Regions from separate parts of the Homo sapiens genome. Here all the other regions are linked to region 1. Evidence: fine-mapped QTL for protein levels in blood plasma. A gene starts in region 1. Each other region holds a variant in brackets. All regions are shown on one strand. Distances are from middle to middle. Region 1 holds the start of SNED1 (sushi, nidogen and EGF like domains 1). Region 2 overlaps SNED1 (sushi, nidogen and EGF like domains 1). Region 3 holds the start of CROCC2 (ciliary rootlet coiled-coil, rootletin family member 2).

Evidence for each region. A credible set is the group of variants that fine-mapping cannot tell apart. PIP is the posterior inclusion probability: the model's chance that the variant is causal. The UK Biobank Pharma Proteomics Project read protein levels with antibody pairs (Olink). The fine-mapping took linkage between variants from a reference panel, not from the people measured, so its PIPs are less certain.
Region 2: its variant is the best candidate, but not a certain one, in a credible set for the plasma level of the SNED1 protein (UK Biobank, PIP 0.63).
Region 3: its variant is the best candidate, but not a certain one, in a credible set for the plasma level of the SNED1 protein (UK Biobank, PIP 0.65).

What each region holds. Positions count from the first base shown.
Region 1 is chr2:240,997,015-240,999,763 of GRCh38, reverse strand. It overlaps SNED1 (sushi, nidogen and EGF like domains 1), which reads right to left and starts at 1,146. Exons shown (of 32, transcript NM_001080437.3): 1 at 714-1,146. The coding sequence starts at 926. RefSeq lists a silencer at 1,095-1,514.
Region 2 is chr2:241,034,082-241,036,791 of GRCh38, reverse strand. SNED1 (sushi, nidogen and EGF like domains 1) reads right to left here. Exons shown (of 32, transcript NM_001080437.3): 4 at 2,062-2,224; 5 at 1-2. The region is part of intron 1 of SNED1-AS1 (SNED1 antisense RNA 1); the gene reads left to right. Among named protein-coding and RNA genes, the nearest start is that of SNED1-AS1, 29 kb to the left of the region's middle. RefSeq lists enhancers at 1-806, 807-1,748, 1,749-2,692. The variant C/T (reference allele first, on the strand shown) is at 1,920.
Region 3 is chr2:240,905,631-240,908,379 of GRCh38, reverse strand. CROCC2 (ciliary rootlet coiled-coil, rootletin family member 2) reads right to left here and starts at 2,044. Exons shown (of 32, transcript NM_001351305.2): 1 at 1,789-2,044. The coding sequence starts at 1,866. The variant T/C (reference allele first, on the strand shown) is at 1,224.

The sequences.
Region 1 (2,749 bases):
AGCCATGGAGACAGAACCGGCACTCGGGCCTGTTCCTTCAGCTGAGCTGAGCCTGCTGTCATGAGTCCCTGGCCCCAGGAGTCCCACTGGGAGTCCTGTTTGGAGAGTCTGAGCCTGAGCGGCCAGCCCCCAGACTGCGGAGAGGACGGCAGGGAGGGGCAAGCCTGTTGCTAGCCCGCCTAGGAGGGTCAGCGAAGAAGCAGGCCCTGCCCTGAGCGCCTGGGCAAGGGGTCCAGCCTCCTGGCTCTGGGCCGCACTGGCGTCCACGGGGGGCGGGGCTGAAATGGCCCAAGGAGGGGCTGCAACCTTCGCAGGCCCGGCGCCCCACTTGGGAAACTGAGGCCCGGGAAGCCCGTGCCCACGGCCACATTGCCATGTGTGAAAACCAGGGCAGTACCAGGACCCCTGCTCTCCCCTGGGAATCAGGCGCCGGGAAGACGCGCTCGGCAGGTCTGGCAGGGGCCGGGGCGCCGCGCTCCACTCGCCCCCGCCTCGGTGCCCGGCGGCTGCCGCCCCCGCCCCGCCCGCGCGCCTCTCCCGCGGGCCGCTGTCCGGCCTTGGCCGCCGAGGAGGAAGCGCTGTCCTCATTCCACCTCGGGCCGCCCCGGTGCCAAGTGGCTGGCGGCGGCGGCGGGAGTCCGGGCCCGGCGGGCAGCGGCCGGGGCGCAGCTCCCTCCCCTCCCGGGCGCCCCGCGAGCCCGGGGGTTACTCACGTAGAGTCCGGAGTGCTCGGCACCGAAGAACGGGAAGGGCACCGAGAGCGGCCGCAGCCCCGAGCCGCCGTCGTCCTGCTTGGGGGTGACGGCGTCGCCGCGCTCGGCGCCGAACGGGTAGAAGTCGGCAAGGGCCACCGCGCCGCGCACCCCGCGCGCCCCAAGCCCCAGGGCCGCGGCCACCAGCAGCGCCCAGGCGACGCCGTGCCGCATCGCGGAGGTGTGCGGGCGGGACGGGGCGCTGGCGGAGCAGGGCGCTGGGGGACTAGGCTGCGCGCGGGGGTGGCCGGCAGGGCCAGGCGGGGTGCGGGGAGCGCGGGCGCGCCCGCTGGCCGCGCCGTCGGGGGCTCCGCGTCCCGCGCCCGTTCGGCCGGGCCGCGCTCTCGCCGCAGCTCCGCAGAGGAAAGCGCCGGGCGGGACCGCGTTCGGGGCCAGCCCCGCCCCTGGGGCCACGATTTAAATATCCAGCCCGGCGGTCACTCGGGGGGGCGGGGCCATGCAAATCGGGCGTCTCTTAAAGCGCCAGGCCCCGTGGGAGGGCGCGGGCGCGCGGGGAGCTCAGTCCCCTGGCGTGGGCACAGGCAAGGTGAGGGCTCTGCGGGCGCGCGCCCTGTGGTGGGGCCATGCTCCGCCCTGGGTCCCTACCCTGGTGGAGGCGCCTGGGCCCTCAGTGCCGTCCTGGGACAGACCTGTGTCCCTAAGGCCTGAGACGCTGGGCCCGCCCTGAAGGCGTGTCATCACGCGGGGGGCGGGAGGGGACCCTGGCCAGGCAGTGCCTGAATGAACCCGTTCCGTGCTGCCCCCTTCCCAGCCCTGAGCATGGGGACGCCAGGCTTCCAGCCACAGGGGCAGACTAACCCCGGAGCCCACTCCCTGCCTGGGTCTGTGTGAGGAAGAGCCCGGGCCGGAGACTAGGAGGCATGGAACAAAGTGTTTGCATCTGCGTGGCCGCATCAGGAGAAATTCCTGGGAGGCTCGGGACCTCGGGGCGACCCCTGGGTAAAGCAAACCCTCCGTGGGGAAGACTGACCCACTCAGGCCCTGGGGGCAAGTGCGTGCATGACACCGGCCTTGGCAGGTGGGGGCAGGACTCTGAGTCCCAGTATTTGAATTCAGGGTCCCCACCCTGTGGCCTGCCAGCCCTGCCCCCTGTCTCTTGGGCTGCTGGCCTGGGCTGCCTGTCTGTCCTTCCTCAGGGCCTCAGCCGGGACCACCTCTATGTCCCCAGGCCCATGGCAGGGTCTGATTCCTGGAACTCACCCGGCCCACCGTGGTCTCTTCTCTTAGATCCTGGTGTTGGGTGGTGTTGGCTGCGTGCCACACTGGGGCCCCCAAAGATAAGAGTGCACCCCTCGAAGACAAGCAGGAAAGGCCGGGCTGATGGTAACTGCATCTACCACTGAGGTGCTGGGTGGTTTTTTGTTTGTCTTTGCGTTTGTATCTTCTGAAATATCTCAAGTGAGCACGTGTTGTTTTTCAGTGAGAGCCAGGCACAGTCAATGTTATTTTTAAGAAGCAGCGGAGGGTTCTCTGCGTGTGACTGGGTGTTGCCGGTTCTCACAGATCCTGCACTTGGTGTTTTCACTCAGAGGTTCATGACCCTTTAGACTTGGTGTCAGGGCCGGGTGCAGAATTGTTAAGGAGGAGCTGACCCTGCACTGGCACCTCCTGAAAGCTTGCCCCTGGCGCCTCTCCCACCCTGCATGGGGTGGCAATTCTGTTTGCAGAGAGGCAAACTGGGCCTGGGAGGGGAAGGGCTCTGTCCCGCAGTTAGCCCTTAGGTCACCGTCCCAGCTTTCAGAGCTCCAGGACAGCAGCACAGCCATGGTTCCAGGGCCAGAAAGGTCAAGGCCTCCTGTCTTTGGAGGGAGGCACCAGAGAGGGCGTGGAACTGTAGAATCCCTACTTGAGGCCGGCTCTCGGTGAGAGCCTGGCAAGGAGAGACATGTCTCCACGCACATGCACACACGTCCACGCACACATGCATACTTATTCACATGCACGGAGGCAGCATATGCCCATACGTGGGGCCTCAA
Region 2 (2,710 bases), 37 kb before region 1:
CGCTGCAGACATAGGGAGGGGCTGGAGCCTCAGCCGCTGCCTCCGGACTCGGCAGGAGAGCCACTCCCATCCGCATCTCCCTTCCCTCCCCTGACCCAAAAGGTCGGCCTCTGGGTGCCCGGGTGACCGCAGCAAAGCAGCCAGGTTTCAGGTTTCACTTTAGGTCGGAGCAGGGGAGCAGGGGAGCAGGGGCGGTGCTGTTGGCGTGGCCTCTGGGGAGGTGGCTTCGTGTGGGGCGGACTCCCTGAAGCGACTCACACCAGCACCCCGTCCCCTCCATCCCTCTCAGCGCTGCCGTGGACAGGTCTAAAAACTGGCACACTCCGCCTCCCCTCCAGGGTTCCTGGCGTGGAAAACCCGAGGCTGGCACTCAGCCGTCATGTCAGCGTTTCTGGGACAAGGCGGGCCACGCAGGGGGTGTGGCTGGGGGCTGCAGGAGGGCTGTGTCCCTCGGATGCTGGGCGGCCGCTCTGGGCTCCCCGCCCCGTGAGCCCGGACTCCCTAAGCTCAGATGCAAGCGGGGGCCTGTTCGTGCCCCAGTGTGTGGGTAGCTCGGGCTCCTCGGGCCTCCTTCGTCGCGGCACCACCTGCAGCCCTCAGATGGGTCTTCCCGCCCTGCGACTGCATCTTTCCTCTTCCCATGAGCGCGCGGTGCTCTCCCCACCCCGTGGCGCGCCTCTACTCCCCAACCCCCACCCCGTGATGCGCCTCCACCCCCCACCCCCCACCCTGTGACGCACCTCCACCCCCCACCCACCCCGTGACGCACCTCCACCCCCCACTCCCCTCCCCGTGACGCGCCTCCGCCCCCCACCCCTACTACGCCCCACCTCCAACCCCGTGGCACACCTGCACCCCCCACCCCTCCACCCCGTGGCACGCCTGCACCCCCCACCCCATGGCACGCCCCCACCTCCCACACCCTCTACCCCTCACTCCCAACCCTGTGGCGCGCCTGCACCCCCCATCCCCACACCATCTACCCCTCATCCCCAACCCTGTGGCGCACCTGCATACCCCATCCCCCACCCCCACACTCTCTACCCCTCATCCCCCACCCCATGGCGCGCCTGCACCCCGCCTCCGCCCCGACAGTGGTGCGCGCGCATCTGCTACCCCTGTCGTGTTCTCTGGGGACTCAGTGTTGCGGAGATGCGGCCCCTCTCCCCTCTCGTAGCCTAGATGCTCGCGGCTGGGAGGCGAGTCTGGGGCAGGTCCCGGTGCGAGCCTCACTGCGGCCCCAGGCTTGGCAGGGCTTGTGATGCGCCGCCCTCAGTGGAGCGGATCAGTCGCTTGCCCTCGCCCCAAGTGTAAGCAGTGATTTCTGAAGGCTCCTTGGCTCCCAAGGCCGCACAGCAGCAGGGCTAAGGCTACCATCTATGGCTCTGCTGCCGCCCTGGCTGTTCCCACAAACCACGTGCCCACCCCTGGGAGGGACACCCACCCCGTCCGTTTGTGCACTGTGGGCTGGAAGGACCCCTGGAACTCCCCTGTAGACGTGATGCTTGGGTTTGTCAAGCAGTCACCAAATCCCACCAAGCAGCAAGCCCGCTGGCAAAAATGAGGACCTGGGTGGTAAGAGGACCTGCCTCATGGGTGGCCCTGAGGGTCAGAGACCACATGCTGCTCCTCCCCCAGCCCAGGCAGGAGGCTGGGTGGGAATAAGGGGAGAGTAGGGACCACATGGTCCCAGGGAGAGGTGTCCCTGGGCTCCTCCTCCCCTGAGGACCCAGAACTCTTTACCCCCGAAACCCGCAGTCTCCAGAGGGTTCCCTCCAACCCACAGCAGTGTGTGTGCGGGATCTTCTCTAGGGCACAGTCTCCAGAGGGTTCCCTCCAACCCAGAGCAGTGTGTGTGTGGGGTCTTCTCTAGGGGAAGCTGAGGCTGCAGGACCAGCCAGGCTTTCCTTAGTTTCACA[C/T]GCCTGAGGTGGGCTGGGCTGGACACCCAAGTGCTCCTGCTCTCCCCGTCAGCATCCAGCCCCCTTCGTCTCCACCTCTCCTCTGCCATCAACCCCCTTCCTCAGCCCGCTCCCACCCCAAGCTGCTCCTCTGTCCTCTTACTTGTATGGCCGCAGCCCCCCACGCGCACCTGGGCATCATCGATTCTGAACGCCCAGCGCCCGGGCACACCCACGTTGGTGGTGGTCTCCACCTCGGCCATGTCTGCTGTGCGCGAGCCGGGGATACTGAAGTAACGCTGCCCATCGCCTGCGTTGAAGCCAGCCTGGGGGTGGGGTGGGGGCAGAGTGAGGGAGGCCAGTTCCCCAGGTCTACAGAGGTGGGGGTTACCCTGCCCCCACCATGTTCCTGCCAGGGTCGGCAACCTCCCAGCCAGGTCCTGACCTCAGCCAACCGTTCCTGGGAGCCAAGGAGAGGGCTGGCCCTGGCTCCCCAGCCCAGTCCTCCGGCAGCTCACCTCTGGGCTCTTGGGCCTCCCCTGGGGCCAGGGGCAAGTATGAACCCAAGAGAAAGCAGGTGGCCAGGAGGTGAGTGGGGGTGCGCACAGCCCAAAGGCACTCTCGGGCCTGGGGAGCACTGACCCTGTGGCCATTGTCCTGTTTCATTCCCTCCACACCCGGGGTTTCCTGCCGGCTGTGGTCCCTTGTGTCACTGGCTAGGCCAGACTGCAGGGCACAAGGAGCAGAGGACATTTCTGTTGCTGTTGCAGCTGTTAAAGGGGACTGCAGGGGCAGGGCGGGGCAGGTCAGGG
Region 3 (2,749 bases), 91 kb after region 1:
AGAGCTCACCCCAGGTGGAGGAGGTAGAGCTCACCCCAGGTGGAGGAGGTAGAGCTCACCCCAGGTGGAGGAGGTAGAGGTCACCCGAGGTGGAGGAGGTAGAGCTCACCCCAGGTGGAGGAGGTAGAGGTCACCCGAGGTGGAGGAGGTAGAGGTCACCCCAGGTGGAGGAGGTAGAGCTCACCCCAGGTGGAGGAGGTAGAGCTCACCCCAGGTGGAGGAGGTAGAGGTCACCCGAGGTGGAGGAGGTAGAGCTCACCCCAGGTGGAGGAGGTAGAGCTCACGCCAGGTGGAGGAGGTAGAGCTCACCCCAGGTGGAGGAGGTAGAGGTCACCTGAGGTGGAGGAGGTAGAGCTCACCCCAGGTGGAGGAGGTAGAGCTCACCCCAGGTGGAGGAGGTAGAGGTCACCCGAGGTGGAGGAGGTAGAGGTCACCCGAGGTGGAGGAGGTAGAGCTCACCCCAGGTGGAGGAGGTAGAGCTCACCCCAGGTGGAGGAGGTAGAGCTCACCCCAGGTGGAGGAGGTAGAGCTCACCCCAGGTGGAGGAGGTAGAGGTCACCCGAGGTGGAGGAGGTAGAGCTCACCCCAGGTGGAGGAGGTAGAGCTCACGCCAGGTGGAGGAGGTAGAGGTCACCCGAGGTGGAGGAGGTAGAGCTCACCCCAGGTGGAGGAGGTAGAGCTCACCCCACGGCACCTCTTTGTCTTGTTGCATCGCCTGATTCAAATATCCTGCCCTTAGTCCTCATGCAGCCCTGTGTGTGAGCAAACCCTGCATCTACCCTGTCACTCGGTCACCTGCACCAGCTGTGGCCATTTCTCTTTTCAGGTGATCTGTATTGTTTGGATAGGGCCATGTCAGCCTGCCGTGGCATAGTTTTGAGATGCTAAGAGCTGGGTTAACAAGCAACCATGAGTAAGCCAGTTCGTCAGGGGTTCCCTGGGGTCCCGAGGGGTCCGTTGGAGGTGGGGCCGCCTGGCTGTGGTGGTCAGCAGCAGGTGACGGCAGTGCAGGGAGGAGGGATATCCGAGGTGGGACCGCAGGCTGGGTCCTAGGTGGGCTCTGGGAAGTAGGGAGGCAAGGGGAGAGGGACACGGGACAATTCCCAGCCACTGTTGTCACACACCAGGTGCTACGAAGACAGAACCAGAACATCTGGAAGCCACAGAATAGACACTAGGGCTGAGCCACAGCCTCCCACAAATGTGCAGCGATGGAAACACTG[T/C]CCCCCGAGAGGCCCTGCTGGCCCCACACTTGGCCATGGGAGGGCAGTGAACGAGGTCCCAGAATGTCAGCACCAAGGGCTGCCTGCCCATCCCCACCCCAGTGCGCAGCCTGCAAACCCGTGGCTGCCAGGGACGCCAGTCACCTGAACGTCCACAGCCAGCAGCGGCCCCGGGCTCTCTCTCCACCCTGCAAACCTGTGGCTGCCAGGGACGCCGGCCACCTGAGCATCCACAGCCAGCAGCGGCCCCGGGCTCTCTCTCCACCCCGCAAACCTGTGGCTGCAAGGGACACCGGCCACCTGAATGTCTATAGCCAGCAGCGGCCCTGGGCCCTCTCTCCCCAGGCTCTCTCTCCTGGCTGAAGGCTGCCTGTGTGTGCATGCAGGCGCGCCTGCTTGCATCCGTGACTGGCTGCACGCTCAAGGCAAACACGTGAGCAAGTGGAAAGTGCCCCGGGAGCCAGGAAGGTGCCTCCTGGCCATCCCCTCTCTTTGCCGCGTCCCTTCCAAAGTGTCCTGGCAACCTGCTCTCAGGAGGGTGCAGGGAAGTGACCACCCCACTGACCTGGATCACGGTGTCCAGCCCCAGTAGGGGCTGTTGGGAGGCGTCCCCATTGCCAGGCTCACTGGAGGCAGAGCTCATTGCAGCCCAGAGCGCAGGACCCCAGAGAAGTCTGGGCTTTGCTACCTGGCAGTTCTCCTCCAACTGGCCAGGGTCTTCCTTGGTCCACGGGCCCCACACCTGTGTGGCACCTGGCTCTGCAGTCTTGTGTCCCGAGCCTGGGCACCCAGTTGCTCTTGCCCTGTGGGTAAGACAGTATGGCCAGCTGAGCCCGTAGGCATTGCTGTGGCAACCGGGACGCTGAGAGCTGGGTTTCCCTGGAAACAGGAGTGCAGGACCCTGTTGCTGTGGGGACAAAGGAACGCTGTTGGCTGGAAGCAGTTTTGCCTGGAGACCTGGAGACGCCCTGGGTAAAACTGTCTACCTGAGCAACGGCACCTGGGAGGGGCTGGCCTTTCCCCCAGACACCCCCTCCCGCATTCGCTCCAGGGGGAGCCGTGTGCTTGCTGGACACACGGTGGGCAGAGGCAGCATGCAGAGCACTGGTCTTCCTTCATCTGGACTCATAAACTATGACTTTTGAAAAACATTTGTCAAAGAACGTAGTGGTCGTCGCAGGTGGTGGACTGAGACCTGGAGAGGGACGCTGCCTGCCTGAGGGGCAAAGGAATCTTGTCTTCCTGGCCTTGCACCTGTGAGTCCTTCTGGAGTCTGACTCCCGCTAGAGCCCTTCAGAGTCACCTGCCCATGGGTCCACCCTTGCCCTGGGAACCTGCACTGTTTCCCACCCTGTGGAATCGGAAAGGACCACCAGCCACCCTGTCCGAAGGGGAGAAGTCCCTGGTCAGCATGCGTGGTGGAGGGTCTGCAGAACTTGCCCACGGCTTCCCACCCCAGGGGCTGCCAGGGGCTGTCTGGATGCCAGGGCAGGGCAGCTTCCCATAGGTGGGGCAATGGGAGGGAA